Linked DNA regions of Homo sapiens. The protein of the gene in region 6 interacts with the protein of the main gene of each other region in a pairwise test. Each region holds a gene or a part of one and is shown on either strand. Other genes may lie near its edges.

Region 1 (4,094 bases), on a different chromosome or scaffold from region 6:
TTCTCTTACCTTTTTATCTGCTAAGTTTTCTGAATCCTGAATCCAGATTCCACCCTAAACCCTTCACTAACAATCAAAATCTCCCAAGATCAGAGGCCTCAAGTCCCATCTGCATTTCATCGTCTTGCAGGCATCCCTCCCAGGGGTGGCAGGCCTGGGTTATCTCTCTGCCTGTGCACAGCTGCCATCCGGGGATTCCCTGCCCCCTCTCCTGCACTCCATTTGCCATTTTCTGTATCCTCTTTCTTGGTATACTTCCTTGTTTTGCTGGTTGGCATCCTTGCGTAGCTTCTGGAGAAAGAGTAAATAGCAGCTAAGTTTTTGAAAATTGCATGTCTGGAAGTTTCTGTATTTCCAGGTACAGAATTCTGGATGTCCAACATGAGAGGGAGAGCCAGCTCATCCCTGGCATATTCCTTTGGTGGGAAGAAACAGAAAATAGTGCTGTGTGCTCAGGCATGTCCTTCCCAGAGCTCTGCGTCCAAACCAAGAAGATGGTCAGCTCTGCTATGTTTTGAAAAGGCAAATTTGTTCCAATGATTGATATTATTTGGAACAATTTGAGCATAGCATGAATTTCATGTTTTCTTATGCACAACCTCTTATCCCGAGACTGCAGAAAACTGCAGTGTACCCAGCTGAATGGAGCCACTTAGAAATACACAAACATACACATGTACACACCTCGAGGACAATGAGCCACACTCATTCACATTTGGTGTCACAACTTTTCATGTCATTTCAGAGAACCCTAAACCTCAGGCATTTTTCAATGGAAAGTTCCATCTCTGTCATAATATTTATGTAATTTTTTTTTTTTTTTTAAAGACAGAGTCTCACTCTGTTGCCCAGGCTGGAGGGCAGTGGTGACATCTCAGCTCACTCCGACCTCTGCCACCCAGGTTCAAGTGATTATCCTGCCTCAGCCTCCCGAGTAGCTCGGATTACAGGCATGCACCACCACGCCTGGCTAATTTGTTGTATTTTTAGTGGAGGGAGGTTTTGCCATGTTGGCCAGGCTGGTTTTGAACTCCTGACCTCAAGTGATCCGCCCACCTCAGCCTCCCAAAGTGCTGGGATTACAGACGTGAGCCATTGCACCCAGCCAGTATTTTTTGAGCATGTAATACATGTCAGTGTTTTACCATTTTGATAGGAACCCTAATCCGAAATTCTGAAATCCGAAACTTTCTGAGTGTCGACATCATGCTCAAAGGAAATGGTCATTGGAGCATTGTGGATTTTGGATTTTTGGAGATTTGGAATGTCCAACCAGTAAGTACAATAGAAATATTCCAAAATGCAAAAAAAAAAAAAAAAAAAAAAAAAATCTGAAATACTTGTTGTCCCAGGCATTTCTGATAAGGGATGCTCAATCTATATAACATTCCTATGATTTTTTAATGGGTCACTGAGGAAGTTTTTGAATGTTATGTCCCTAACCCCATTTTTCTCATAAGCCCTGTGGTTTTGGATTGCCTGATTTTGCATAGCGTGGTAATTTTTAGGAATACATATGTCACATTATGGCAGAATTGTCTGTAAATTTATTCATCCCAAAATGAAATATTTTAAAATTACAAATAAGGAACATGAATAATTATCCTTCTCTCTTCTCCTGCTATCAGATACTCAATGAAATTGTTTTCTTAAAAGAGCCAATTAAGGCTGGGCGCGGTGGCTCACGCCTGTAATCCCAGCACTTTGAGAGGCCAAGGTGGGCTGATCACCTGAGGTCTGGAGTTCTAGACCAGCCTAACATGGAGAAACCCCATCTCTACTAAAAAATACAAAATTAGCCAGGTGTGGTGGTGCATGCCTGTAATCCCAGCTACTCGGGAGGCTGAGGCAGGAGAATCACTTGAACCCGGGAGGCGGAGCTTGCAGTGAGCTGGGATCGCACCATTGCACTCCAGCCTGGGCAACAAAAGTGAAACTCTGTCTCAAAAAAAAAAAAAAAAAAAAAAAAGAGCCAATTATACCTAATGAAAATTTAAAAACAGGCTGGGCATGGTGGCTCATGCCCACAGTCCCAGCTACTTGGGAGACTGAGGCAAGGGGATTGTTTGAGCCCAGGAGTTCTAGTCCAGCCTGGGCAACATAGCAAGACCCCGTCTCTAAAAAAAATTTTAAAGAAAAGGAAAATAAAAATAAAGTTTTTCAAGTTGACATGTTGTGAAAATTAGTTTTGATAACATTCACACATCTTCTTGCACGCCTTCTACTATGGATGAAAATATGCCAACCTCACAGGATGAGGGGGATAGAAAGAGTTCTATGTGCTCCCTCCTATTTGAAGATCTAAGGAGCTAAATCTAACTGCTTTGTGAACACTACATCAACTATGACATAAACTTAATTTGGAAATTGCTATGGTTTAAATGTGTTCCCTAAAGTTCATGTGTTGAAAGCTTAATCCCCAGTATAGGAGTATTGACAGGTGAGACCTTTAAGAGGTGATTAGGTCATAAGGGCTCTGTCCTCACAAACGGATTAACGTCATCATTGCTAGAGTGTGCTCATTATCTTGAGAATGGGTTTATTATATTAGCAAATTTGGCCCTCTATTGCTCTCTCTCAAATATGCTCTCTTGCCCTTCCACCCTTCTGCCATGGGATGATGCAGCAAGAAAGCCCTTGCCAGATGCCAGCCCCTCAGTATTGGACTTCCCAGCCTCCAGACCTGTGAGAAACAAATTTCTATTGTTTATAAATTAGCCAGTCTCTGGTATTCTGTTATAGCAGCACAAAATGAACTACAGCAGAAATCAAGTACAGTATTATATAGCTGAGAGGTTGACAAAACACAGCACATAGGCTGTTTTTCTATGGCCTGTGAGTTAAGAATGGCGTGGTAGGCAGAATAATGGCCCCCTAAAGATGTCTACATCCTAATCCTTTGAATATGTGAGTTTATATGGCAAAGGGGAAGTAAATTTGCAGATAGCATTCAGGTTGCTCATCAGCTGACCTTAACATGGGGAAATTATCCTGGATTATTTAAATTGGCCCATTGTAATCATGGGGCCCTTAAAAATGCAAGAGGGAGACAGCAGAAGCAGGGTCAGAGCAACATTTTGTTGCTGACATTGAAGGTGAAGAGGCCAATAGTGAAGGAATGTGGGCTGCCTCTGGAAACCGGAAAAGGCACGGGAACAGATTCTCCCCTAGAGCCTCAGAAGAGAATACAGCCCTGCTAACCTGTGACAGACATTACCGTAACTTACAGAACTGTAAGATACCGCAGCAACAGAGACTACATGTGCTAGCACTGCCTAAAATATTTACGATTTGGCCCTTTGCAGAAAAACTTTGCCAACTCCTGGTCTTATGACGTTTATCCCACAAGATTAGATTCTTTGGCCTGTTTTTACTCAGGAACCTCAGTTCTCATATGACTAGCAGTCCAGGGGAGGACAGAGAATATCATCACCATGGCAACTTTTCCCCTAAAGCTAGTCCTGCTTCTACTCAAAAAGATGATCATGACTACCTTTATTCTAGGTCTTTAAAAAATTGTGGCTAGAAGGCAGCATCCATTTGCCATTCTGCCAGAGGATCTTTATTGACCCCCAAATAAAAACGCTGAAGAGCGTCACTGACTCAACAATAAACGGGCATGGTAACTAAAAGATAGCCACAGACTCTTAACACATTTCCCATCAAGGAGCAGGGTCTAGTCTCCCGCCCTTGAATCTGAGAGGGCTCTGTACTTGCCCAACAGCATATGACAGAAATTATGATACACCAACTTGCAAGCCCAGTCCTTAATGGACTGGTGGCTTCAATGTCCTGTCTTTTGGAACATGTGCTCTTAGAACCCAGCTTCCATGCTGTAAGGAAGCTCAAGCAGCCCCATGGAGAGGCCTACAAGAAGAGGAGCTGAGGTTCCTAACCAAGCTCCCAGGCAAAAGCTAGTAACAACTTCAGTCATGTGAGCCATCTTCAAGAACCCTCCAGCCCCAGTTAGCCGCCTCAGCTGTGACCAGCCTCAGCTGTGACCATACGCGGCAAAAACAAGCTTTCTTCACTGAGCCCTTCCCAAATTGCAGATTTGTAAGCCAAATCAACAATTACTGTTTTAAGCCATTAAG
Region 2 (4,094 bases), on a different chromosome or scaffold from region 6:
GTGAGCTTCCAGGGTGGCAAAGTGGCAGGCGTCTCCTCCTCCAGCACACCCCCACCCTGCTCATCCCCCTCCTTGCCCAGGGACAGGAGGGCGTTCCCATAATTAAGCTCATCTGTAGAACTCCAGCACACAGCAGACGCTCCAAAGCATTCACGACCGCAATTTCATACAGTTCCAGAAAGGACAGCACTGCGGACACTGTCAGGATGAGGTGACAGAGGTCACATGGTTTCTTGCCTCACGATTAAATTAGAAAATTCCACATTTATTCCAAAATTGGCAGAATCCATCTCCAGGCTTCACAAATTGCCAAGAAACGCTGCTTTCTTGGAACTGCCAAAATTCAAAACCCCTGCCACAGCTTTCCTAACCCCACAATTTTTGCCAACACCAGCCACCTCTAGAAGATTAAGGTCAGTTTAAAATGGCCTTGGAGGCCGGGCGCGGTGGCTCACGCCTGTAATCCCAGCACTTTGGGAGGCCGAGGCGGGCGGATCACGAGGTCAGGAGATCGAGACCATCCCGGCTAAAACGGTGAAACCCCGTCTCTACTAAAAATACAAAAAATTAGCCGGGCGTAGTGGCGGGCGCCTGTAGTCCCAGCTACTTGGGAGGCTGAGGCAGGAGAATGGCGTGAACCCGGGAGGCGGAGCTTGCAGTGAGCCGAGATCCCGCCACTGCACTCCAGCCTGGGCGACAGAGCGAGACTCCGTCTCAAAAAAAAAAAAAAAATGGCCTTGGAACAGCTCAAAAGAAAAAATGGACAAAACATATAGACAGTTCACATTTGGCCAATAATATATGAGAGAGATATTCAACCCCATTCATAATTAAAGATACAGGAATCGAAAGAGGCCTTTCAGATGGTCCAAAATCAAAGCATTTCATTAAAACCCCAGGGCCCATGAAAAGTAGGAGAATCAGACATCGTCACTCACTACTAACAGGGTCATAAATGGGGTAAGCAATGTGGCAATGCCCATCTTTTGGGGCACCTATTGGCAAACCCTAGCAACTATACCGCTGGGAACTGATTGTACAAATACAGTAAGATCCGTGTACAAAAACAGTAACTGTAGCATTAATTGTAATAGGGAAAATCAGAAATAACTTAATATCTGTATGACTCTGGCTTAATAAATTATGGGCCATCCACATTGTAAAATGGAATATTATGAGGCTGATAATAAAATGGTAGAGAGGTAGCTCCATAAATATTAACATGAAAATGTATATATAGAATGAAAACAGGTACAAAAATACTTATAATATGGACCCATTGTGGTTTTTTGTTTGTTTGTTTTGTTTTGTTTTGAGACGGAGTTTCGCTGTGTTACTCAGGCTGGAGGGCAGTGGCGCAATCTCGGCTCACTGCAAGCTCCGCCTCCCAGGTTCACGCCAATCTCCTGCCTCAGCCTCCCGAGTAGCTGGGACTACAGGCGCCTGCCACCAGCCTGGCTAATTTTTTTGTATTTTTAGTAGAGACGGGGTTTCACCATGTTAGCCAGGATGGTCTTGATCTCCTGACCTCGTAATCCACCCATCTCGGCCTCCGAAAGTGCTGGGATTACAGGCGTGAGCCACCGCGCCCAGCTGGACCCATTTTTAAAAAATTACATTTGTACATATTTTGATATGCATAAAAAAATTCTGGAATGAGATACATACAAAACAAGATTCACAAGATTCACCCCTGGGGACCAGCCTGGGAAAAGGAGGAAGAGATCTTCACTTTTTATCATAAATACTTCCCATAGTGTTGCTTTCTAGCTTGTGTTTTTTATGTCTGCATGTATTTCATGTCAATTATTAGTAACCTCAGAGAACTGGGAGTGAAGGATGGAAAACTCTGGTCCACTCAGTCTCAGGGTCTCCATCACTGAAACCACTGAGACAGGACAGGGTGCTGGACAGGGGTACTCCTGCTTTGGAGGGAAGGTCAGATGAGTGATCACTCAGCTCCTCCAGCGCTGACACTTTGCAACCCTCAGATACCACAACCCCAGGTGACGCTTGTTCTCACGTTCCTGCCAAGAAATACAAATGGCCTGGATAAAGGTGGGTGTAGACATCTAAATATGGTATGACAACTATGCTGAGCAAAACAGCCCAAGGCTTTGACTCCGATCCTTTGGCTCTTAATTATTTAGCTCACTGATTAAGGACAGGACGTTCTTTTCCTTCAAAGACCCAATGGCACATTCTCTCTACGCACTTTCAAGAGCCCTCTGTCCAAATTCGTGTCTTGGTCAAAAAGAATGCTCTGCCCTTATAACTTTATTTCTGTATTACCCCCCACCCCTACCACACCCCAGCAATTGGGAGGTGGGCATATATCACCTGGGTGTTCCAGGGCACTATTAGGAGACAATATAGCTCAGCAGGTAAGAGCGCAGGCTCTGGAGGTATTCAAATCCTGCCTCCACCTTCCACTAACTCTGTGATCAAAGACAGGTTACTAAGCTCTCTGCACTGCAGTTTCGCATCTATTTTATAAAAAGGGATGACATCAGCACAGCCACCTCATAGGACTGTTGTGAGGCAGTAAATGTAAAGTACTTTTCAAAGCACATGCACCAAATAAAAACCACGTGCTAATTCTGTGACCACAAACTGGTTCCAGACAAAATCCGGTCTTTGAATAACGTCTCTTGCCAGAGGGGACTTTGTATATATCACCTATTTAAATAGTACCTTCCCAAAAAGACAGAGGCAAAGAATATTACTAGTTAAAATGAATACAGAACTATTTGAAGGCTATGCCTACATTCCACATTCTCATTTGCCCAAAATCTGAGCCCAAAGAGGCCACCCCGAGACTGGTGGCATTCTGGCATTGCACAGAGTCCAATGGTGGGACATTGTTTTGCCAGAACAGTTGTCTGGGCGCCTGTCTTGTCTGGTGCCCATTATCCTAAAACCCTTGTTGCTTGTCTCCTGTCTTGTAAACTGAAGACCTACAGCCTAGTGAGATCCATGAACGCGGAGGACGACTTCATCAAAAAGTGAGTGTGTGTGGCTAGGGGACAGAGGGCAAGGGGAGAGGTGCGAGGGCTTCCAGGGAGCGAGGCCGGGGAGGGGAGGGGGGCACAAGTGCGTGCCAGCAGGCAAATGGGGGTGTTGGTTGTGTCTCCCATGCAGGGTCTGTGGTCAACTTTGTGAGCCAATGCAAATCAGCTCACACTCAGGAACAAACAGGCCTCCTTACAGAGCAAAGTGCCTGTTCTAACAGCCTATGGCTATTTCTGGAAAGCCCCAGCATTCAGCATCAGCCGAAAATTTTAAGTTGTTGCAAGAATCACAACATTTGGTCAGTGGGTTGAAAAATCCACTGTAACCATGACCCTGTAGCCATGACCACCGGTGTGAAAATGCTTCTGGCTTCTCTCCTGATGGAGCCCAGTCCATCTGGTTCCTCCCAACCTCTCAGCTGGGAGTGGGAGCGGCACAACGCGCCCTGCATCCCTCAGTGTGCAGAACAGCCTGTGGGCCAGACACTGCTGAGGTTTTAAGACTCCTGGGCCACATACCTCATTGTGAAAAGTGTCAGCCTGGGTCTGGGTCAGCCCAGACCCAGAGCTTTCTACAGGCAGAAACTCACTACTCAACATATCCCTGGCTGCACAGACCCCACCCCAACCCCAGCTGCTAAGGGCTTGTTGGGGTGAATTACAGGTAGGGAGACAGACAGGGGAAAGCTGTGGAAAGAGGAAGAGGAAGGGAACCCACAGGAAGGGAGGTCAGGGCACTTGCTTCGGACCCCAGCAGCCCCAGGGCCCAGTGTGGCCTCCTAGGGGGCACAGATTCCCTTCAGGCGCTGGTGCATCCTCTGATCAAGGAGCAGGGCCAGTGTGGGTGTGTCCCCTCGACACACAGGCATGGGCCCCTCTCTCTCTCCAGACCCTCCCTCACAGCTCAGAAAGCGAACATTTCAGAAACAGCCATCCGATAGGCACCTGGGCCTCTTCTGAATGAAGAACCTGTGACGTCACTGAACGGCTTTGCTTGGGTTTTGTCCCAACTCTTTTTTCCCCACACACCCCGTTCCAGTTTTAAATGAGTGGGCTTATTATACAATACATTGGTCCAGGGTT
Region 3 (4,094 bases), on a different chromosome or scaffold from region 6:
AAAATTATGCTTTAATAAGAAAACAAAAAACTGGCCAGGAGCAGTGGCTCACGCCTGTAATCCCAACACTTTGGGAGGCCAAAGCGGGAGGATCACTTGAGGTCAGGAGTTCAAGACCAGCCTGGCCAACGTGGTGAAACCCCGTCTCTACTAAAAATACAAAAAAAATTAGCCGGGCATGGTGGCGGGTGCCTGTAATCCCAGCTACTTGGGAGGCTGAGGCAGGAAATCACTTGAACCTTGGAGGCAGAGGTTGCCGTGAGCTGAGATCATGCCCCTGCACTCCATCCTGGGTGACACAGCAAGACTCCATCTCAAACAAAACAACAACAACAACAACAACAACAACACCACCACCACCTAAGTAGGCTGTACTTCTGCTGAAGTCTATAAAAAAGTTGGTTAATCATTCTAAGAGACGTCCCCTTCAGATGCCAACCTCACACAAGAATAAGCTAGTGATTCCCCAAGGTTTATGGGATCCTACTAGCAGATATACAAAGTAAATTATCACAATTACTTAATAACTACTTTAACACTCATCCTTGCCCACTGCAAGGCCAAAGGAAGCATTCCATTTGCTTAAGCAGTAGACTAAGACCATAGCATTTTTAATGGATACAGCAAAACAACTTGTGGGCTGGCTCCAAGGCCTCGGACTGCCCCATGAGCCCTATCAAGGAAGTTCCTGAGATGATATCTCCATTTATGGAAGAGAATTAGGAGGCAACCATCAGCAGGGTAAACAGTTACCTGACCAGGAGTGGCCACCGAAGGGCACTTTGGTTCTGGGCAGTTGAGGCATTGAACCTGGCCATCTCTGATCTGGATTTCAAAGTAGTCCTTCAGACAGGCTTTGCAGTACACATGCCTGCACTCCAAGAAGTACATGCATTCACTACCCAGCTTCTCACAGAAACAGATACTGCACAGGAACAATTTACTATTAAAGCATTTTATCTGCTGAGCTTGATCAAAGTCCAAGATTTCCTGGATCAGATTTGACAGTGATTCCACATCCTGCACTGCTCTCTCATCCACAATTTCCTCTTGGTCTACATCAGATCCAGCAGCTCCTCCAAAATCTAGCTCTGTGTTGGGAGAAGCTTGAGCTGTCCTTCTCTGCACTTTTTTCTGAGAACCAATCTTGAGCTCAAAAGGAGAGACAATATTCAAGTATGCTAGGGTCTCTTCCTTAAGAAATTGCATCCAGGCAAACAGGACCACGCTGCCACGGTGTTCTTCCCATAGGTTGTCTAAGTGCTTGCATAGAGCAGATAGCTAGGAGAAAACACATGAAGATGTTGGTGAGTTTGGAAAGATGATGCTGCTGCCAACTCCTGGTTTCCCTAGAAATCTTTTCCACTTGCAAGTTAGGCCCTTATTCTAACACTATTTTTTACTGCTGTGATACACTGTGCTACATACAAAACAGTACAAACATTCTTACTGGAGCACTTCTTAAACTATTCGGCAACATGAGCCAGAGTAGAACATAAAGTCAGAAGCAAGAAGTACCACGAGAAGAAGAGAAATAGCAAGACTCCGTAAGGTAGAGAAATAGCTGTACATTTTAGCCACTGAAATGGAAGACTTTTTTCTGTTCTTTAATCTTTTAGTACTGCCATATACCTCATGTAGGACAAAGAGATCTAGTTCTAAAAATAAACTATTTTTCTTCCATTAGGAGTCCTAGCCCTGTTCGTATCCTAGAATAATGGTTAGAAAAAGAATAGTTTAAAAATACTATCCAAGTTTTAAAATTAATTCTTTCAGTTTTATCAAAAAGTCAACTCATCTGAAACAATCACTAACAGAATTCAACCTCAGAGTCCTTGTTCAGATTTACAAGCTGCTTTTAAGTAAGCAATCTGGGCTTATATCAGATCCTGGTTAATGGAGGGAAGCTGCCTGATATTGACCCTGGTCCTAATCACAAGCCCTCAGCAAGGTTTGGCAGCCATAGAGAAAGCTTACACTTCCTAAGCTAAGCAACCAAAATTAAATTATTTGGAATTTTCCTCTTTAAAAGTGGTCTGTTCAATTTGAAAGGCAAATGTTGGAGAATTTTCCATTAGAAATATAAAATATTTTTAACTAGAGCACAGGAATTATAAGCAGCTTTTCTTTTTTAGGTAAACATCCAAAAATATGCCTTCCAGATGGCAAACAAATTTTGTAAATTTAAATGACAAATGAAAAGGGACCAGATTTTCTGTTTCTTACACTCTGTGTAGTGCCACTGACTAAACCCTGCATAGGTACTACCTTAAATACTTATTGATGAGTTAAGATTGAACAACTAATGATTTTTCACATTTGCATAAATATCCTTATAAATCAACCATGCTTTTGAGAAATCTGCTAACATCTGTAAAATGTGATAAATACTAAAAGGGAAGCTATGAGTGCTGTGTGAGCTACCAAGTCCTATGAAGAAGCCATTCTCCAACCTCTTTTCTACCCCAGTCCCTTCTCAAGAGAGGCAGCTGGGGCTGGGCGTGGTGGCTCATGCCTGTAATCCCAGAACTCTGGGAGGCCAAGGCGGGTGGATCACCTGAGGTCAGGGGTTGGTGATCAGCCTGGCCAACATGGTGAAACCCTGTCTCTACTAAAAAATACAAAAAATTAGCCAGGTGTGGTGGCGGGCGCCTGTATTCCCAGCTACTTGGGAGGCTGAGGCAGGACAACCACTTGAACCCACTAGGCAGAGGTTGTAGTGAGCTGAGATTGTGCCCCTGTGCTCCAGCCTGGGTGACAGAGCAAGACTCCATCTCAAAAAAAAAAAAAAAAAAAAAAAAAAAAAAGAGAGAGAAAGGCAGCTGGAATGCATGTAAATGGAAGGGGGACGGGAAAGAGACTGTGTAAGTATATTGGGGGAGGAATAAGGAATAAGGTTTTAGAAAACTAAAACCACTTCCCTCTGTCTACCCGCCCCAATTCAGGGAATGACAGCTCTATGTGTCAATTTCACCATTAACAGGTGAGAGTCATAATGCCAAGGAATCAGGGTACAGCAACAAACAAGAACTGAACCAAGAAGGAATATAAGAGACCAATTAAAATGTTAATTATATGCATAAACATTTATTTGATTAAGAATTCTACTGTAATTTTAGCTGTAACACATAAAACAACTCTCTTCCCCAGCACACACCTCCGCCCCCAAATCCAGCATTAAGTAGATGCTGGTTGGCTGGAATCTGAAACCACAACCACGCATCCAGTTAATCTGTCCCTGTTTTGTGCGTGTGTGTGCATGCACGTGCATGCACGCACATGCGTGGATGTAAAGTATGAAAAGCTCTCTGGTGAAATAGGACTATGAAGATCTAAATAATTAAGCCAACTATCAGTGGCCTAAATGCCAAACAGTCTTGATATTCCTGGACAAATCAACTGTCTTGCATCTGTTGCCTCTGGCACAGACATTAGAATGTAAAGTAATACTCCTTTTTATTCTACCTGTGTTATCCTTTTTAAGGTTTAATTTTGCTTTTAAACCATAAGCTCTAGTTTGTGAAAGTACTCTCACTTAAAAGATTAGATTGGTGGATGGGGAAATGAAAACTGTATGATCCAAAGAGAAAAACTAATGAGCTATTCCTTGAGGTCAGCAACTCTGACATCTTTTGTCTTTTTCTTTTTTTTTTTTTTTTGAGACAGGGTCTCTGTCTGTCACCCAGGCTGGAGTGCAGTGGCTCAGTCTTGGCTCACTGCAATCTCTGCCACCCAGGCTCAAGTGATCCTCCCACCTCAGCCTCCCAAGTATCTGGGATTACAGGGACGCACCACCACACTTGGCTAATTTTTGTATTTTTTGTAGAAATTGGGTTTCGCCATGTTGCACAGGCTGAGCTTTTGTCTTAATACACATTAGTCTATTGATCTTCATTATGACTTCTAGAAAAGCAGCTGCTGATTCATTATCTCTCCCAGAATGCTTTATATTATTTATATTTAGCTTCAAGCCATATTTATGTCTCAATCAAGAGTTGAGGTTGTTACTAGAAAAGTATATATAACCCAGAGGAAATGAGGTGCTTAACATAAGGCCTCAAGCCTTACTGAGATATCTACAGGAACTATACACA
Region 4 (4,094 bases), on a different chromosome or scaffold from region 6:
CTTTCACTTTGATTTTAGCTATCACAAATAACAATAATCAAGGGATTGTATATTTTGTTTGTTTCTTATTGTTTGCGTTTCCTTATGCACCCAGTGAACCAACTCCCTTGGAGTTGGATCTATCTTTGAATTCCACTGGTAATTTTTAAGTACCTGAGCACAGCACAGTTGTGGCTCCATAGCAGGGGTGACCATCTGACCACCCAGGAGTCAAAAGTTCCTCATTTCCCATCCATTTATCCTTTTTCTTCCTAAACCATGCTTCGATGAGCCACTCTAGCTAGAGCCACTCTAGCAAATCCCAATCCTGACATCAATTCTGAGGATACAGAAAAAAACCAACTCAGTTTCTCCTACTATTCTCTCACAACACAGAATGCTTCTGTGACCACATGTGTGAGGGCTTTCCTCACACACCAAGCAAGCAATAATTTCTGCAGCAGACACTGGCTAAATGTCCTCTAATTCTACCTGGAGACATCAGATGCCACAGGTTAAGGGCTTAGTCCCACAAGACTGCCCTCCTCCCACTTCAGATGCCAACTGCAAGCCCCAGGTTGTTTTAACTCTGCTTCTGACCTGGCACCTCTAAACAGAGGTTCCCACAAGCCCCTTCTTGGGTTCAATTAATCTCCTAGAGCAGGTCACAGAACTCAAGAAACACTTTATTTACATTTACCAGTTTTAATAAAGGATATTACAAAGGATACAGATGAAGAGATGTACAGTGCAAAACATAGGAAGGGACACAGCTTCAATGCCCTCTCCAGACATGCCACCTTCCAGTAACCTCAGCTACCTAGCTCACTGACCTCTGTCCTTGTGGGTTTTCATGAGGCTTCATTATACAGGCATGACTGATTAAACCACTAGCCATTGGTGAACAATTAAACCTACAGCCCCTCTCCCCACCCCCTCTAATCACACCTTGGTCTCTCCACTGACTAGCCTCCAGCCCGAAGCTACCTAAAGGTGGCCAGCCACCAGTCAAAACTCATTAGCATACAAAAAGATACTTAATACTTTCGGGATTCCAAGGATTTTTTAGGAGTTCTATGCCAGGAGAGGGAAGGAGAACCAAATATATACTTCCTAATATCACAAGGAGCATTAAGCAATGCTTCTGGGTACTGCTGAATTGGAGTGGCAGCTAACATTACTGAAGTGGGAAAGGCTAGGTACATTTCCAAACTAATTCCCAGGAGTCATTAAATGACACAGGGGTCCCAAGCTGCCTTCCCATTTTAACTATGAACTCCTAGTAGCTGAGAGAAGCTTCTTCCACTTACATTAAATCTGTTAAAATGCCACAGACATCCAAGAACATCAATGTAAGTAACAGAATAGTGTACTGTATGAATCTTGAGGTTTTTATTGCTGTAGTGCAATTAGAAATGGAGAAGGCGGCCAGCTGTGGTGTCTCATGCCTGTAATCCCAGCACTTTGGGAGGCTGAGGCGGGTGGATCACTTGGGGTCAGGAGTTTGAGACCAGTCTGGCCAACAAATCCCATCTTTACTAAAAAATACAAAAAAATTAGCCAGGTGTGGTGGCGGGCACCTGTAATCTCAGCTACTCAGGAGGCTGAGGCAGAAGAGCTGCTTGAACCCAGGAGGCGGAGGTTGCAGTGAGCCAAGATCGCACTACTGCACCCCAGCCCGGGCGACAGAGACTCCATCTCAAAAAAGAAAAAAAAAAAAAAAAGACAAAGTGATGATTAAAATACTAGCCAGGTGCAGTGGCTCATGCCTATAATCCCAACAGCCTCCTTTGGGAGGCTGAGACAGGATGATAGCTTGAGCCTAGGATGGGCAACATATGGAGATCCCATCTCTACAAAAAAACATCAAAAAATTAGTTGGGAATAGTAGGAGGCTGAGGTTGAACCCAGGATGTCAAGGTGCCGGGAGTCGTGATTGTGCCACTGCAGTCCAGCCTCGACAACAGAGAGCCTTAAAAAAGCACTATTATTTCTGACACAGTAAGAACCACTCAGGGACCAAACACCAGCTATACCTGGACTTAGACAGGCCTATGGCTCAAGGTTATCATCAACATTAACTCGGCAGCTTTTGAGGTTAAACAAACTCCACCAGCCTGGCCTGGAAATAAAACGTCTAACACTGTATCCATCAAAAAAGCGCATTTCAAAATCTAAAACTAATCTATCTGTAAACTGGGGACTGTGTGAAATCAGTTCAAATTTTCAACATAATTCAGTATACCCAAAGACTCATTCCCACAACCAAAACCCCCATTCTAAGTCCACAAAAGTACTCACAGAAATGGAAGCAGTGGGATCCAACTGATATTTAGCTGCAATGCCAAAACGAGTGCAGTTGGTACCTGATGTCCAAGCAAGGTTTACTGAAGTGTCAAGATCTTCACAAACTTTCTGATAAATTGATCCTCCAAATTCTGTCCCATCATTGCTATAAGATATTTTAAATTAGTAGATCTAGAATAGACAATGTAATAATGTCTAAGGCACAGGCTGATTTGTAGCATTACATTTAAATAAAAAACCACAGCTCAAGTGGGTCTTTAGTGTTCCACTGAAAACTTGCAAGTTTTAACAGGTTTTTTTCCCCAACCCATACCCATACAGGGATTGGTAAAATGAACCACAGAATATCCATTCAGTGGAATTATCACACTGTATTAAACATGCAAGAGGTTCTCAAACAGCCTTTTGGTTACGTATTTTATATATAAGTATATATACACACACATATAAAAAGGTGAACCACAACATTAACAAAGATTATATACCTAGCTGGCATGATTGTAAGAAACGTAGGTTTTCTTCTTTGTGCTTCTGTTATTTACCAATGAATTTTTACAATGGAAAGAAAAACATTTTAAGTACTTTCTATGTATCTATCTAGTTTGGGCTAGGTAAAAACACCAGGCTGGATGCAGTGGCTCACGCCTATAATCCCAACACTTTGGAAGGCTGAGGCGGGAGGATCGCTTGAGGCCAGGAGTTTGAGACAAGCCTGGGCAACATAGCAAGACCCCATCTCTACAAAAATAATTAAAAACAAACAAACAAAAAAACAACAATAGCCGGGCACAGTGGCTCACGCCTGTAATCCCAGCACTTTGGCAGATCACGAGGTCAGGAGTTCCAGACCAGCCTTGCCAGCATGGTGAAACCCCGTCTCTACCAAAAATACAAAAATTAGCCAGGCATGGTGGCACACGCCTGTAGTCCCAGCTACTTGGGAGGTTGAGGCAGGAGAATTGTTTGAACCCGGGAGGCGGATGTTGGAGTGAGCCGAGATCGCAAAAGAGCAAGACTCTGTCTGAACCAAAACAAAAAAAGAAAGAAAAAAGAAAAAGAAAAAAAAACCCAACCACAAAACACCATACATTTTAGGCAATCCTATCAAGTCAGCATCTCACACATCAAAATAATTAAGTAAAATGAATGTACTGGTAGCAGTCTGCCAATATATAATGCCTCTTGTAAAAATACAAAGCACATTAAACCCCATATAAAATGAACATTTACTCTCTCAGCACCAAAGGTCAGACTAACAGTCTTCTACTATAAACTTTCAAGGGGCACCCTAGAAATGACCAAGAATGATTTTGTTTTTAAATGTTATGAGAAATCCTTTAGGGTGCACCCAGATCAATAAGATGACAGACATCAAAATCATCCTCTGAGGGCCCACATCACAGTATCCTATGAAAGAAATACTTACACATTAGTGTGTAGCTGGAAGTCCCCAGTCCTGTAGCCCACTGCAAAGTTATTCCTTGTCAGCTTTGATTTGGCACTGTCAAAGGTCATCTGGTAGCCAGCAAGCCAGCCCTCATAACCAAAGACAGCTGAACCATGGATTGCAGGTCCAGCAAAATCAAAGTCAACATCACAACCAAGGTTTATACACTCCCTCTTGTAAGAAGACTTGATTTTACCACTTTTCTTTCTGGAAAAAGAACAAACTGATGTCATTGGGAAAAATTTACACACACTTCTGCACAAGAGAGCACAAAACAGACTTAAATAAACTGCAGTATGACCAGGGAGTAAAAATCAGCAATACAATAACAGGGAGTAAAAAAGTCAGCTCAATGAACTAC
Region 5 (4,094 bases), on a different chromosome or scaffold from region 6:
CTTCCAGCCCCTTGCAGAGCTGTGTCTCAAGCTTCTTCAAGAAAGTTAAGAGATGGACTTGCATTTTCCTTGCCTGCCATTAAAAGCAGTCTTTATCTCATAGGCACACATCAAATGTGCTTGAAGCCTGGCTCCAAAAAACTCTGCCCTCAAGAATCCATGGAGTGGCGGGGTACGGTGGCTCACGCCTGTAATCCCAGCACTTTGGGAGGCCGAGGCGGGAGGATCGCTAGAGCCCAGGAGATCGAGACCAGCCTAGGCAACATGGCAAAACCCCATCTCTACTAAAAATACAAAAATTAGACAGACATGGTGGCACATGCCTGTAATCCCAGCTACTTGAGTGGCTGAGGCATGAGAATTTCCTGAACCTGGGAGGTGGAGGTTGCAGTGAGCCAAAATCACGCCACTGCAGTCCAGCCTGGGCGAAAAAGCAAGACTCAACCTAAAAATAAAAAATAAAAAAATCCACAAAATGACCCTTAACAGTGGAAGCTGAGCCTTGTTGGCAGGCAGGCTGGCATAGAAAGAGCCTCCCAGCCCTTAGAAGGTGAAGCTGGGCCCTCAGACATGTAGCCTCATGCCTGGCCCACAGCAGGCGCACAAATGTAAACAAACAGAATGAATACTTTCCAAAGGAACTACAAAACTCACTCAGAACAGTTTTTATTTATTCAGAAAGACATTTAAAAAACAAAACAAACTCTGTCAACCTACGTTCTTGACTTTCACAGAACATGCCTGAATCAGGGTTTCTTATTCTCACTGCTGGTGGCACTTGGGGCTGGATCATTCTTTTTTTTTTTTTTGAGACAGAGTCTCACTCTGTCACCCAGGCTGCAGTACAGTGGTGCAATCTCAGCTCACTGCAACCTCTGCCTCCCAGGTTCAAGCAATTCTCCCGCCTCAGCCTGAGTAGCTAGGATTACAGGCACCTGCCACCATGCCGGGATAATTTTTGTATTTTTAGTAGAGATGGGGTTTCACCATGTTGGCCAGGCAGGTCTCGAACTCCTGACCTCAACTGATCCACCTGCCTCGGCCTCCCAAAGTGCTGGGATTACAGGCGTGAACCACTGCACCCGGCCTGCATCATTCTTTGTTGCGGGGCTGCCTTGGGCACCACTGGCCTCTGCCCATCAGATGCCAATACCCCAGTCCCATAGCTGTGGCAACAGAAAGCATCTCCAGACATTGCCAGCCGTCCCCTGCAGGACACAACCATCCCTGGGGAAGAATCCGGAACCAGCTGAAGCAGAGAGAGTAATTTGGTCGTGAAGATTCTGAAGCCCAACTGCCAAGGTTTTCTGGGTCTCCCATTTGCCAGCCACTCTGCCCTTGAAGAAGTCATTTAATCCCATGCCTCAGTTTCCTCAACAGTTTAGATGGGGACAATAACAGCACTTACTTCTTGGGGTTATAGAGAACCGAGTGAGTTAACACGGGAAGAACTAAGAACTGTACCTTTCAATAGAAGACTTTTTTTTAATAAATATAAAAATTAATTAAAAGATGTTCTTTTTAATTATAACCTTAAATGACTTTTTAATGAAGAGAAAATTAGAACACATGTCCCCTAAGCATTCTCCTATTCTCCTTTAAATAGAAGCCGTCTTTGATTTTTTATTCTTTCAACGAGCTTGTCATTTAAAAAGATAATTAAGAGTAATCTAAACTTAAACCAAAGGATTCAAATTTAAGTGAACATCATATTATGTGAATACCACACTTCCACGTATGGGGTGTTTTCTGTTAATTTTTTTTTAGACAAGGTCTCATTCTGTGGCCCAGGCTAGAGTACAGTGATGCAATCATAGCCCACTGCAGCCTCGAGCTCCTGGGCTCAGGCGATCCTCCCACCTTGGCCTCCCACCATGGCCAGCCTATGGGTGTGTGTGTGTGTGTGTATGTGCGTGCATGCGTGCGTGCGTGCGTGTGTTTTTTGAGCACAGTGTAAGTTAGCAGGGAGATCTAGAGTTGACAGTGAGGACAGCCAGTGTGTGTGTGTGTGTGTGTGTGTGTGTGTGTGTGTGTGTTTTGAGCACAGTGTAAGTTAGCAGGGAGATCTAGACTTCACGGTGAGGACAGCCAGCCCTGTGGACACAGGCACCATTGAGGCCTCTGACTGCCAAAAGGCCTGAGCTTCATAAGAGGCACGGGGAAGGGCAAACAAGGACGGCTCTGACACTGAGACCTTGTCCCTCACTTCCCATCTCCCATGAAGGGGCTGCTCTGAGACTGTGAGGGGAGAGGGGTAGAAGAAAGGCCCACCAGCTCTCTTGGGTTCCCGGTCTACCTCGACCTCACCCCTGGGAGCCCACCCTGGTGGGCTTTGGAGTGCTAGGACATGTGTGCCTTTGAGGCACACAAGTGAACCGTGAGGCAGGTGGGAAAGCAGGAGAGGCCGACAGCACCCACACAAGACCGGGTTCCACCAGACCCCGAGGTCTCAGTGGGAGCTACAGCCTCTATCCCTGGCCATGGCCCTGCTACAGTAGGAGAAACAATATGGAAAAGAAATGACTCAAAGAGCAGCCTCCTAGAAAGAACAACCACAAAGTTTCCCAAACCCCAAGAGAAAAACAAGTGTCACTTCCAGAGTCAGGAATGAAAAGGGGTTGGAGCCAGCGCAAAAATTAAAACTGAAAAGAAAAGAAGGGCCAGGATGCTCACAGATCAGGAGAGATCAAGGGAATGTCGGGTTAGGATGGATCAGAGGCATCCTAAGCTAACACCCAAAGAATTTCAGCCTTTCAACCCTGATCCAGAGAACTGAGGGCCAGCAGGGACGGACACAAGGTCCAGAGAGTGAGCCCTCCAGCTGAGAGCCAGCCAAGCCCTGGCATCTCAGCTGGTGTATACAATAAATAGCTAATGCACGGGGGGCTGAACAACTAGGTGATGGGTTGACAAGTGCAGCAAGTCACCATGGCACAGGTTTACTTATGTAACAAACCTGCACATCCTGCACATGTATCCCGGAATTTAAAGTTAAATTAAATTAAAAAAAAAAAAAAAAAAAAAACAGCGGAGCCAGAGAGGCCAGCTTGAGATTTAAGACACTAGTCGGGAGGGCTGGAGGAAAGGCGTTTGGAAACCATGTATGCACCCGAGTCCCCTGGCCAGGGGCCACTCAGGAAGAAAGCAGATGGGAGAAAGGCCAGGCAGCAGGAAGGCAGGCGCAGGGGGCACGCAGGAGCAAGGGAGCCCCAGGGCCCTAGCGCCAGGCTCCAGGGCAAGCCTGCAGGGAAGCAGAAGCACCTCTGGGGCTGAGTGGCAAAGGAGGAGACGCCCCACAGAGCCAGAGGCAGAGGTGGGCTTAGGAAGCCGGAAGCGGGTCATGTGCATCTTTGTACTCTGGGGCCCAGTGCACCACCCACCCACCCACAGAAGCCTGCGGCTGACCCTCCCAAGGTGATTCATTTACTCATCCCACAGGGGCTCATCTTATGGCTTCTGGGTGCCAAGCACTGGGGACACTCAGATGAACAAGCTGCCCCATGACATCTGCAACCTGGGCAAGGGAGACAGGGCCAACAAGGAGGAGTACACAGCCAAGGCTAAGCACGAAGAAGCAGAGAAACAAGGTGACTAGTACAAGGTCGAGGGGACACCCACAGTTAAGAAGGTCTCTTGGGCAGTGACATGTAAGCTCAGCTCTGAAGGATGAGAAGGAGCCTTTCCCCAACAGATGTACAGGTGAGAGGAACAGCAAGTGCCCGCTCAGGAGCTTGCCTCCGTCCCTGCAAAGGCTACTGGAGCTCTGCTGCTGGAAATGTCCCTTTAATTCTCCAGAGCCAGAAATTCTTCCAGAATTCACAAGCTGAATGAATGCCACTCTCTGGCTCTGCCAACAGAGCCCAAGCTTCTCGGCAAGGCACAGAAATCCTTGAAATGGGTCCTCCCTTCCCTGCCTTAACCTTCACATTCCTGGACCCTCACAAAGATCACAGGCCCCTGGACAGGCCATGCAGGGGGTCTCTCCTCTCACTGTTCCCTCTACCTAGACTGCCCTCCTGCCCCACCCACCTCTACTTGAGCTCAAAACACCGCTCTGGGCTTGGCACAGTGCCTCAGGCCTGTGATTCCAGTGC
Region 6 (4,094 bases):
CTTTTTTTTTTTTTTTTTTTGGCTGGGCACAGTGGCTCACACCTGTCATCCCAGCACTTAGGTGGCAGAGGCAGGAGGATCACTTGACCCCAGGAATTCGAGACCAGCCTGGGCAACAAAGTGAGACCCCCATCTCTATTAAAATACCAAACAAAAACAAAAAACAAACAAAACCAAAAACCCTCTTTTGTTGTTAAAAGGATTGGTTTATCCTGTAGAATGCACTAAAAATAACCCCCTTCCTTATAAAAAATCTAGAATGTACTGCTTATTTTTAAGCATGCAATGCTATAATGTTTTGTGGGGGATGGGCTTGTTTTTTTTAGAGATGGAGTCTCACTTTGCCCAGGCTAGTTTCGAACTCCTGGGCTCAAGTGATCCTCCCACCATGTCTCCCAGTGTTGGGATTACGGATGTGAGTCACTGTGCCCTGCCTGTAATGGTATATTAATGCCTCATTTTCCTGATAACTTACGAAGTTAAATTTAGATAATTAAAGGGTTGTGTTTTTTTATTAGCATTTTGTTTAACATTTGGGTGGAAAATATCTCCAAATTTATTTCACGTATCTAGGCCTTATTATACAATTATTCAGCTTTTAACAATTTACCTTTTTGAAGTTTTATCCCTCCCCTTCTTTATGCTCAAGAAGTTCAGCCTTCTTATTGAGGGGCAGATCAACTAACTCCACCTTTGTTAATAAAGCCTTCACTGACCATTTTTTTCCTGTCTCTGCTGATTTGTCATGTACAGTTTTTTTGTGTTTGTAACATTTATCTGGAAATCATATATTGCCTTATTAGCTTTTGTTGCTTTAACAGTTGTTTCTCCACATCAGTTTCCTCAAGAATGAGAATGATACATTAAACTTGTAAGATATCTTAGTGGAGTAGAATGTTACCTTCCATATTGTAGACACCCAGTGAATATTTGATGATAGACTAAATTAGAACTGTGACTTCTTACCTTGTAAGGTCACCATCATAATTGTCCTCATCAGTTCTTACAGCAACATAATTGATGTCTCCTCCTCATTCATTTTATACCATGTTGCCAGATAAATTTCATCCCGGATCAGATCACTTGCCTCATAATCCTTAATGATTGTTATTATTATTATTATTATTTTTTGAAACAGAGTCTTCACTCTGTTGCCCAGGCTGGAGTGCAGTGGTGCCACCTCAGCTCACTGCAGCCTCCGCCTCCCGGGTCCGAGCAATTCTCCTGCCTCAGCCTCCCGAGTAGCTGGGATTACAGGCATGCGCCACCACACCCAGCTAATTTTTGTATTTTTAATAGAAATGGGGTTTCACCATATTGCTCAGGCTGGTGTGCAACTCCTAACCTCAGGTAATCCACTCACCTTGGCCTCCGTAAGAGCTGGGATTACAGGCGTGAGCCACCACGCCCGGCCCTTAATGATTCTTTATTAGGACTAACCACTGAAGATATCTGACTTAGCATTCAAAGTCATGATTTGGCTCTACATATACTTTTTCAGCTCTTCATAGCCTTGTGCTTTCTTTTATACAACCTGTATACTCCAGTCATACTGAGCAGTTTGCTGTATTCCATGTATGTCTTCTGCTTTCCTGTCTTTGCCCATTCTGTATCCATTGCCCAGAATGTTCTTCCTTAATCCTTCCCAGTCTCATTTCTAATATCCAGGGCCCAGTTCAAATGCCAAGAATCCACGAATTCTGATTTCTCCTACATACACTTTTCTTAATCTGAACTCCTTTATTCATGCACCATTCTTAAGACACTTTACCCTTTTAATTTTAATTATTTGTGACAGTGTCACATCTGCTCTTTTAGAATTCAAGTCTGGTTCATTTTCACATTGCTAGAACTACAATTTTCACAAAGCACGCACTTATACTTTAGTGAATGTAATGATCAGCATTTTGCTGTAAGAGTGTGCAATTGTATGGTTGTTAGTGTCTATTAAGCATTCCCAGAATCCTGTGCTTTAGTGTTTGGCCTATCACTTCTAATTTATAAAGTACGTTGAGCTTTGGGAAAGTTAATTTCATTATATATTTTTTGAATTTGTTTTTTTTTTTGTTTGTTTGTTTGAGACGAAGTCTCGCTGTGTCACCCAGGCTGGAGTGCAGTGGCGCGATCTCAGCTCACTGCAAGCTCCGCCTCCCGGGTTCACGCCATTCTCCTGCCTCAGCCTGTCCCGAGTAGCTGGGACTACAGGTGCCCGCCACCACACCTGGCTAATTTTTTGTATTTTTAGTAGGGACGGGGTTTCACCGTGGTCTTGATCTCCTGACCTTGTGATCCTCCTGCCTCGGCCTCCCAAAGTGCTGGGATTACAAGCGTGAGCCACCGCGCCCAGCCTGAATTTGGTTTTGTGTTCCATGAAGTTCAGCTTGCCTAGGTGACTTTTATAAATAAGTAACCAGTTATTTGTTATTTGTGTGACCCCATTGTTGCAGGATTTTTCTTTGTTTCTGCCTGACCTCTCATTCTGAATGTGCTTTAATAAAGGCTGATTTTTTGGCATTAAGATTGTATGCATCACTAAGAGTAAGATAGTCTGTTCAGAGTTTAATTCTAGAGCTAATTATAGGGTAACTTGAGAAGATGGAGATGGGATGGTGAGTTACTTGGTACATAAGATCTGAGCACTTGATTTTCTTAAAATATTTTTTAGGTAATAGTAGAAACCTTTGTTGCAGAATTTTGATCTTTAAAAGTTTTAATAGAAATACTTATGTAGATTGGGATTCTTTTTCTTTCTTTGAGACATAATCTTACTCTGTTGCCTAGGCTGAATGTAGTGGCATGGTCACGGCTCACTGAAGCCTCAACCTCACGGGCCCAAGCCATCCTCCCACCTCAGCCTCCTGAGTAGCTGGGACTATAGGCGTGCACCACTTTGCCTGGCTAATTTTTATTTTTTGTAGAGACGGGTCAAGCAGTCCTCCCATCTCAGTCTCCTGAATAGCTGGGACCACAGGTGCATACCACCACACCCAGCTATTTTTTGTATTTTTAGTAGAGACGGGGTCTCACTATATTGCCCAGGCTGGTCTCAAACTCCTGAACTCAAGCAGTCCACCCACCTCGGCCTCCCAAAGTGCTGAGATTACAAGTGTGAGCCACCATGCCCACCCAACAGCCTTTTTTTTTGGAGATGGAGTCTTACTCCATCGCCCAGGCTGGAGTGCAGTGGTGCAGTCTCAGCCCACTGCAACTTCTGCCACCTGGGTTCAAGCGATTCTCATGCCTCAGCCTCCTGAGTAGCTGGGATTAGAGGCAAGCACCACCACACCTGGCTAATTTTTTGTATTTTTAGTAGAGATGGGGTTTCACCATGTTGGCCAGACTGGTCTTAACTCCTGACCTCGTGATCCACCCACCTAGGCCTACCAAAGTGCTGAGATTACAGGCGTGAGCTACTGGGCTGGACACCAACAGCCTATTTTTAATAACCCATATGAGTACAGGACAGAAATACATCCCTAACTCTGTACCTGAAGTAAGGAAGGTAATACATAAAAGACATATTTGCAAACGACTTGAGGCAAGAAAAGAAATACAACACATCTCTAATTCTGATTGTATCTGCAATCAACCTCTTATCACTTCCCTCTTCATGTGCAGAATTTACCTTGGCTGAGACACAGTCAAGAAAGAAGACAGGTGGCCAGGCACAGTGGCTCACACCTGTAATCTCAGTACTTTGGGAGGCTGAGGTGGGCGGGTCACCTGAGGTTAGGAGTTTGAGACCAGCCTGACCAACATAGAGAAACCCCGTCTCTACTAAAAATGCAAAAATAGCCGGGTGTGGTGGCACATGCCTGTAATCCCAGCTACTTGGGAGGCTGAGGCAGGAGAATCTCTTGAACCCAGGAGGTGGAGGTTGTGTTGAGGCTAGGTTGCGCTGTTGCACTCTAGCCTGGGCAACAAGAGTGAAACTCCATCTCAACAACAACAACAAAAAAGAAGACGACAGGCTGTGTGCAGTGGCTCATACCTGTACACCAGCACTTTGGAAGGCCAAGTGGGAAGGATTGCTTGAGCCCAGGAGTTCGAAACCAGCCTGGGCAAAATAGCGAGATCTCGTCTCTACAAAAAAA
Region 7 (4,094 bases), on a different chromosome or scaffold from region 6:
TGTGGTGCTCCTGGTGGGTTCTGGTTCTCAGCAGGAGAGGGAAAGGCCAGGCCTCGGGAACCGACCTGGTGGTGGGCAGGATGGCGGACGGGGGTGGATGCGGAGGTGGGTGGACTCCTGGCCGCAGCTTGGACACTGGATCTCAGCGGCTGAGGGGCAGCTGTGGGGCGCCCACGGGCAGATGCGGAAGTGCCGGCAGCGTTAGTACTGAAAAAGGATGACCTGCAAGAGGAGGGCATGGGAGGTGGCTGAGCTGGGGGCCTGCCCCACCCTGCTGCCCCCCAGAGAACCTCAAAGGCACAGAGAAGAAGGGTGGACTCAGGGCCCAGATCTGAGTTTAAATCCTGGCTCTGTCAACTGACTTGCTGTGGGACCTTGGGCAACTCACTGCACCTCTCTGAGCCTGTTTCCTCATCTTTAAAACAAGGATGACAAAATCTCTCTCTGAGAATCAGAGAGATTCAATGAGATACAACAGCAGCAGCAAAAGCCTTCTGGGCATTTCACCCTGCACCTTCTGTGCCTGATTTCACGGAAGCCGCACCATAGCCCCGTGAGGGAGTTCCAACGTTCTGTTTTACAAGGAGGGCACTCAGGCTCAAAGAGGTGGAAGCGAGTGAGCTCGTGGGCACACAGCGAGGAGGAGGACCTGGCACTGGAGGCCAGGCCTGGCTCACAGCAAGCTCTCCCTACCAAAGCACATTGCCTCTACCTTTCCAAGGTCACCGTGACCATAGTGGCTGACTGCTTATTACCCACAGGGCCACGGGCTAAGCACTTCACATGCGCTTAATCTTCACATGCACGAAGCCTAGAAGTGCGTGGCTCAGACACACTGGGTGCCCGATACACAGTGGGAGATCAGGACTGTCTGTCCCTTTCCCCCTCCCACTCCCACCTCTAGCACTTGGTTGACATCTCACTGCTGCTGACACAGCCAGTTCCCTGAAGTTCAGGTCAAGGATCACTGGCTGGCTGGTCAATGGCAATGTGTCATTTCACAGTAAAGTGTGAGGGGCATCTGGTGGGCATGACTACATGGCTGTTCCCTTTTCTGATCAGGAATGTTACTTGCCCAGAACTGGTTATCACAAGGAGGTGATGGAGGAAAGCAATGATGATGATCACCATAATAGTGATCATGATCATAACCAACACCTGGGGGCATTTTCTGTGCACCAGGCTCTGTGCTGGGCTCCTTACACACATTATGCATTTATTCTCTGCAGCAACCCTACGGAGTGGGAACTATTATTATCCCCAGTTTGCAGATGTAGAAACCGCAGCTCAGAGAAACTAATTGCATTCCCAGATCTCACAGGGGAGGTGGCAGAGCTGGGATTCCGAGCTGGCCTAACTCCAGAGTGGCCAGGGTGGGCATTCCTTCCCCACCCTGGCCACTGCTCCACTTTGGCCTCCAGAATGCCTGGCTTTTAGCCCTTATTAGGAAAAGCTCTCTCAAGAGTGGCGACCCTGGTAGGACCCTTCCCCTCCATGGGTCTCAGTCTCCTCCACTGATCAATGACAGCTTAGCCCTGATTTCTAAGAACTTTCCAAGTGTTGGATTTGTGGGATCAGGGGACACAACCAGGAAGAAATGTGGCTCTGGAACCTCACAGGTGTGTGTGGCCAAATGACGATGCGGTGGAGGCAGGGGATGCTCCCCTGAGTGCTCAGAGCACTGTTCTCCTGGCCAGGCCAGTGCTGGTCTAGATGAGTGGGTTCAGGGGCCAGCCCCATGGGGACACTGAGTCTCCTCACAGCTAGGCAGGCTCAGGCCTGGAAGGACTTGGAAGAAAGCCCAGACAATCCTGTGCTGGCCACACACATACCACACCCTGCCGCCCACCAAGCCCCAGGAATTTGAGAGTTATGGACAAGAAAAGTCCCTAGGAGCTGGCGGAAAGGCCTGACAGTGAGAGGACAGAAGGTCATGAAGGAGGGAGAGACACTTTAATGCAGACTTTCTGGGTGCAAAGTTGGGGACACAGCCCAGCAAGGGAAAACTCTGGCTCAGCAGCCAAATCCAGAAGCCAGAAACTGTCTATAGCCAAATCTGACAGCCCCCAGCATGGCTCATCCCCCAGGCTGAATGAGACAGAACCACAAGCTTAGCTGAGCAACCAGGAGGCAAAGGCTCCTCTCCAAGCACTGAGCCCAGCCCTCTGTACCTCCAGGGCCCATCCCTGCCCTCCACATAATGTCCAAGACCCTCTTTCCATGATCCTTTGTTCTGTGGCCCCTGTCGGCTCTCCCCACTTCCCTGGACCTCAGCCACACTGAACGTCCCCCAGGGTCCCCTCCGGCCCAAGCTCCTCCATGCCTCTGGGCCTTTGCACATGCGGTTCTCTTGATGTGGAACACCCTTCTTCTTGTCCCCTGTCTCTCCCCTAGAGCTCACTGCCTCCTCTTCTGGGTCCTCTAAGGTCAAGTTTCTCGCCTACTCCAGCTGCCCATTCCCCTGCAATGTAACTGCCCACACCCTGTGCTAAGCCACAAGCTCCCTGAGGGCAGGGATCATGTCAGCTCACTTCTGCAGTCCCAGAGCCAGGTCTAATAGGATGAATCCCCTCCCACAGGAAGGGACAGCTCTGAGGCAGGTGGCTCTAGGATCCCGGCCAGTTCTGCCCATGCTCACATTGTGATTCTGGATGAGCACTGCTCTGTCTGAGCCTCCGTTTCTGCAAGTGTGAAATGGAGGTCATCGCAATCACCCTCCCAGGGAGACTATGAAGGATGAGGTCGGAGAGAGGGCTGTGTACACAATGAAGTGCTGCACAAAAGGAAGTGATTACTGAGCCGCGCAGACTTCAGAGTCCGACAGACTCGCTGCATCCCTGGACAAGTCATGTCACCTCTCGGAATCTGTTTATCTCTTTACAATGAGAAGGCCATCTCTATGTCCACAAAGTGGCTGGGAGGTGTGAACCAGATGCCATGTGAGAAGTAGCTGCCTTGAACAGAAGGAGCTCAGCAAACGGCAGCTCTTCCTATGGATGTGACAGTCTCAGCGGCGATGGTGTTCCTGGGGCATGCTCACTCACTACAGATTCTGCAGGATTTTACGTTAGGCACTACCATTTATTTACAAATGTATCTGTCCAGGGCTGTCTGTACCTCCACACCATACACATTCTCCTGTGGTGCCCGGCACAGAGAGCTCAGTACATACTAGGTGTACTGAGCTCAATCAGGAGGCTGAGCCAGAGGTACCATCCTAAAGGAGCTGTCCCCACCCCGGCTGCCCGTTAGAATCACACAGGCTGAGTATTACACTCGCAGATCCCTATATCCCACCCCAACAGACTCTCTGAGAGCGAGGCTTAGGAATCTCTGTATATTTACAAGCTGCCCAGGTGATTCCGAGCACACCAAGACCGGGATCTGCTGAACTGGAGGGCTCCTGACTCCAGCCCTAATGCTCTGACCCTCTCCCTCCGAGGGACTGCCACACCCACTGACCTCCAGGGATCCCTGCTTCCTACTGGGTGTCCTCCAACCCAGCAGTCTCTGAAGACTGCTACAGTGATGTTTCTGCAGCAGGCCCTCCAGGACCCCACACTGCCGCAGCATAAAATACAGACTCTTCCACCTGGCAGCCTCAAGGCTCTCGCTTTCCTCCTCTCATCCTCCCAGACATGCCTGCCAACAATGCTGAATGGCTCAGGGTTCCCTGAGAGCTCTGGTGTCTCATGCCTTCCCTGATGCCTCAGCTTTCAGGCCTGGCCTTAGAGGTTGCCTCTTCTGGGAAGTCTTCCCTGCCTCTCTCCTTTGCCCCCTTCCCCCTCCCCAGCTCCCATGGCTTCCCCTGTCACACTGTATTGTAACTGTTGGGATCTGCCTCCCCCTCCAGACTCTGGCCTCCTCAAGGGTAGGGACCACACTTTACTTGTTTCCACTCCTAGCAACAGATTCATGGATGCTGGGCACAGACAAGACATAGGAAATGTCTCCAAATAAACAAGTCAGTGAATTAAAAAATGTAAGGTTCGGCCGGGCACGGTGGCTCACGCCTGTAATCCCAGCACTTTGGGAGGCTGAGGCGGGTGGATCACCTGAGGTCAGCAGTTCAAGACCAGCCTGGCCTACGTGGC

The links.
Region 1: the proteins of RNF11 (region 6) and PRPS2 interact in binary tests that used the Homo sapiens proteins (3 or more experiments, as listed by UniProt).
Region 2: the proteins of RNF11 (region 6) and LPIN1 interact in binary tests that used the Homo sapiens proteins (3 or more experiments, as listed by UniProt).
Region 3: the proteins of RNF11 (region 6) and RNF14 interact in binary tests that used the Homo sapiens proteins (3 or more experiments, as listed by UniProt).
Region 4: the proteins of RNF11 (region 6) and VDAC2 interact in binary tests that used the Homo sapiens proteins (3 or more experiments, as listed by UniProt).
Region 5: the proteins of RNF11 (region 6) and WWOX interact in binary tests that used the Homo sapiens proteins (3 or more experiments, as listed by UniProt).
Region 7: the proteins of RNF11 (region 6) and LHX6 interact in binary tests that used the Homo sapiens proteins (3 or more experiments, as listed by UniProt).

What each region holds. Positions count from the first base shown.
Region 1 is NC_000023.11:12,794,089-12,798,182, reverse strand, and holds part of PRPS2 (ribose-phosphate pyrophosphokinase 2), read right to left. Parts: intron 1-4,094. UniProt on the Homo sapiens protein: Catalyzes the synthesis of phosphoribosylpyrophosphate (PRPP) that is essential for nucleotide synthesis.
Region 2 is NC_000002.12:11,749,072-11,753,165, reverse strand, and holds part of LPIN1 (phosphatidate phosphatase LPIN1), read right to left. Parts: intron 1-4,094. UniProt on the Homo sapiens protein: Acts as a magnesium-dependent phosphatidate phosphatase enzyme which catalyzes the conversion of phosphatidic acid to diacylglycerol during triglyceride, phosphatidylcholine and phosphatidylethanolamine biosynthesis and therefore controls the metabolism of fatty acids at different levels.
Region 3 is NC_000005.10:141,975,490-141,979,583, reverse strand, and holds part of RNF14 (E3 ubiquitin-protein ligase RNF14), read right to left. Parts: intron 1,282-4,094; coding exon 754-1,281; intron 1-753. UniProt on the Homo sapiens protein: E3 ubiquitin-protein ligase that plays a key role in the RNF14-RNF25 translation quality control pathway, a pathway that takes place when a ribosome has stalled during translation, and which promotes ubiquitination and degradation of translation factors on stalled ribosomes.
Region 4 is NC_000010.11:75,220,589-75,224,682, reverse strand, and holds part of VDAC2 (non-selective voltage-gated ion channel VDAC2), read right to left. Parts: intron 3,941-4,094; coding exon 3,713-3,940; intron 2,432-3,712; coding exon 2,281-2,431; intron 1-2,280. UniProt on the Homo sapiens protein: Non-selective voltage-gated ion channel that mediates the transport of anions and cations through the mitochondrion outer membrane and plasma membrane.
Region 5 is NC_000016.10:78,102,174-78,106,267, reverse strand, and holds part of WWOX (WW domain-containing oxidoreductase), read right to left. Parts: intron 1-4,094. UniProt on the Homo sapiens protein: Putative oxidoreductase. Acts as a tumor suppressor and plays a role in apoptosis. Required for normal bone development. May function synergistically with p53/TP53 to control genotoxic stress-induced cell death.
Region 6 is NC_000001.11:51,242,325-51,246,418, forward strand, and holds part of RNF11 (RING finger protein 11), read left to right. Parts: intron 1-4,094. UniProt on the Homo sapiens protein: Essential component of a ubiquitin-editing protein complex, comprising also TNFAIP3, ITCH and TAX1BP1, that ensures the transient nature of inflammatory signaling pathways. Promotes the association of TNFAIP3 to RIPK1 after TNF stimulation.
Region 7 is NC_000009.12:122,204,559-122,208,652, forward strand, and holds part of LHX6 (LIM/homeobox protein Lhx6), read right to left. Parts: intron 223-4,094; coding exon 202-222; coding exon of another isoform or gene 143-201; 3' UTR 1-142. UniProt on the Homo sapiens protein: Probable transcription factor required for the expression of a subset of genes involved in interneurons migration and development.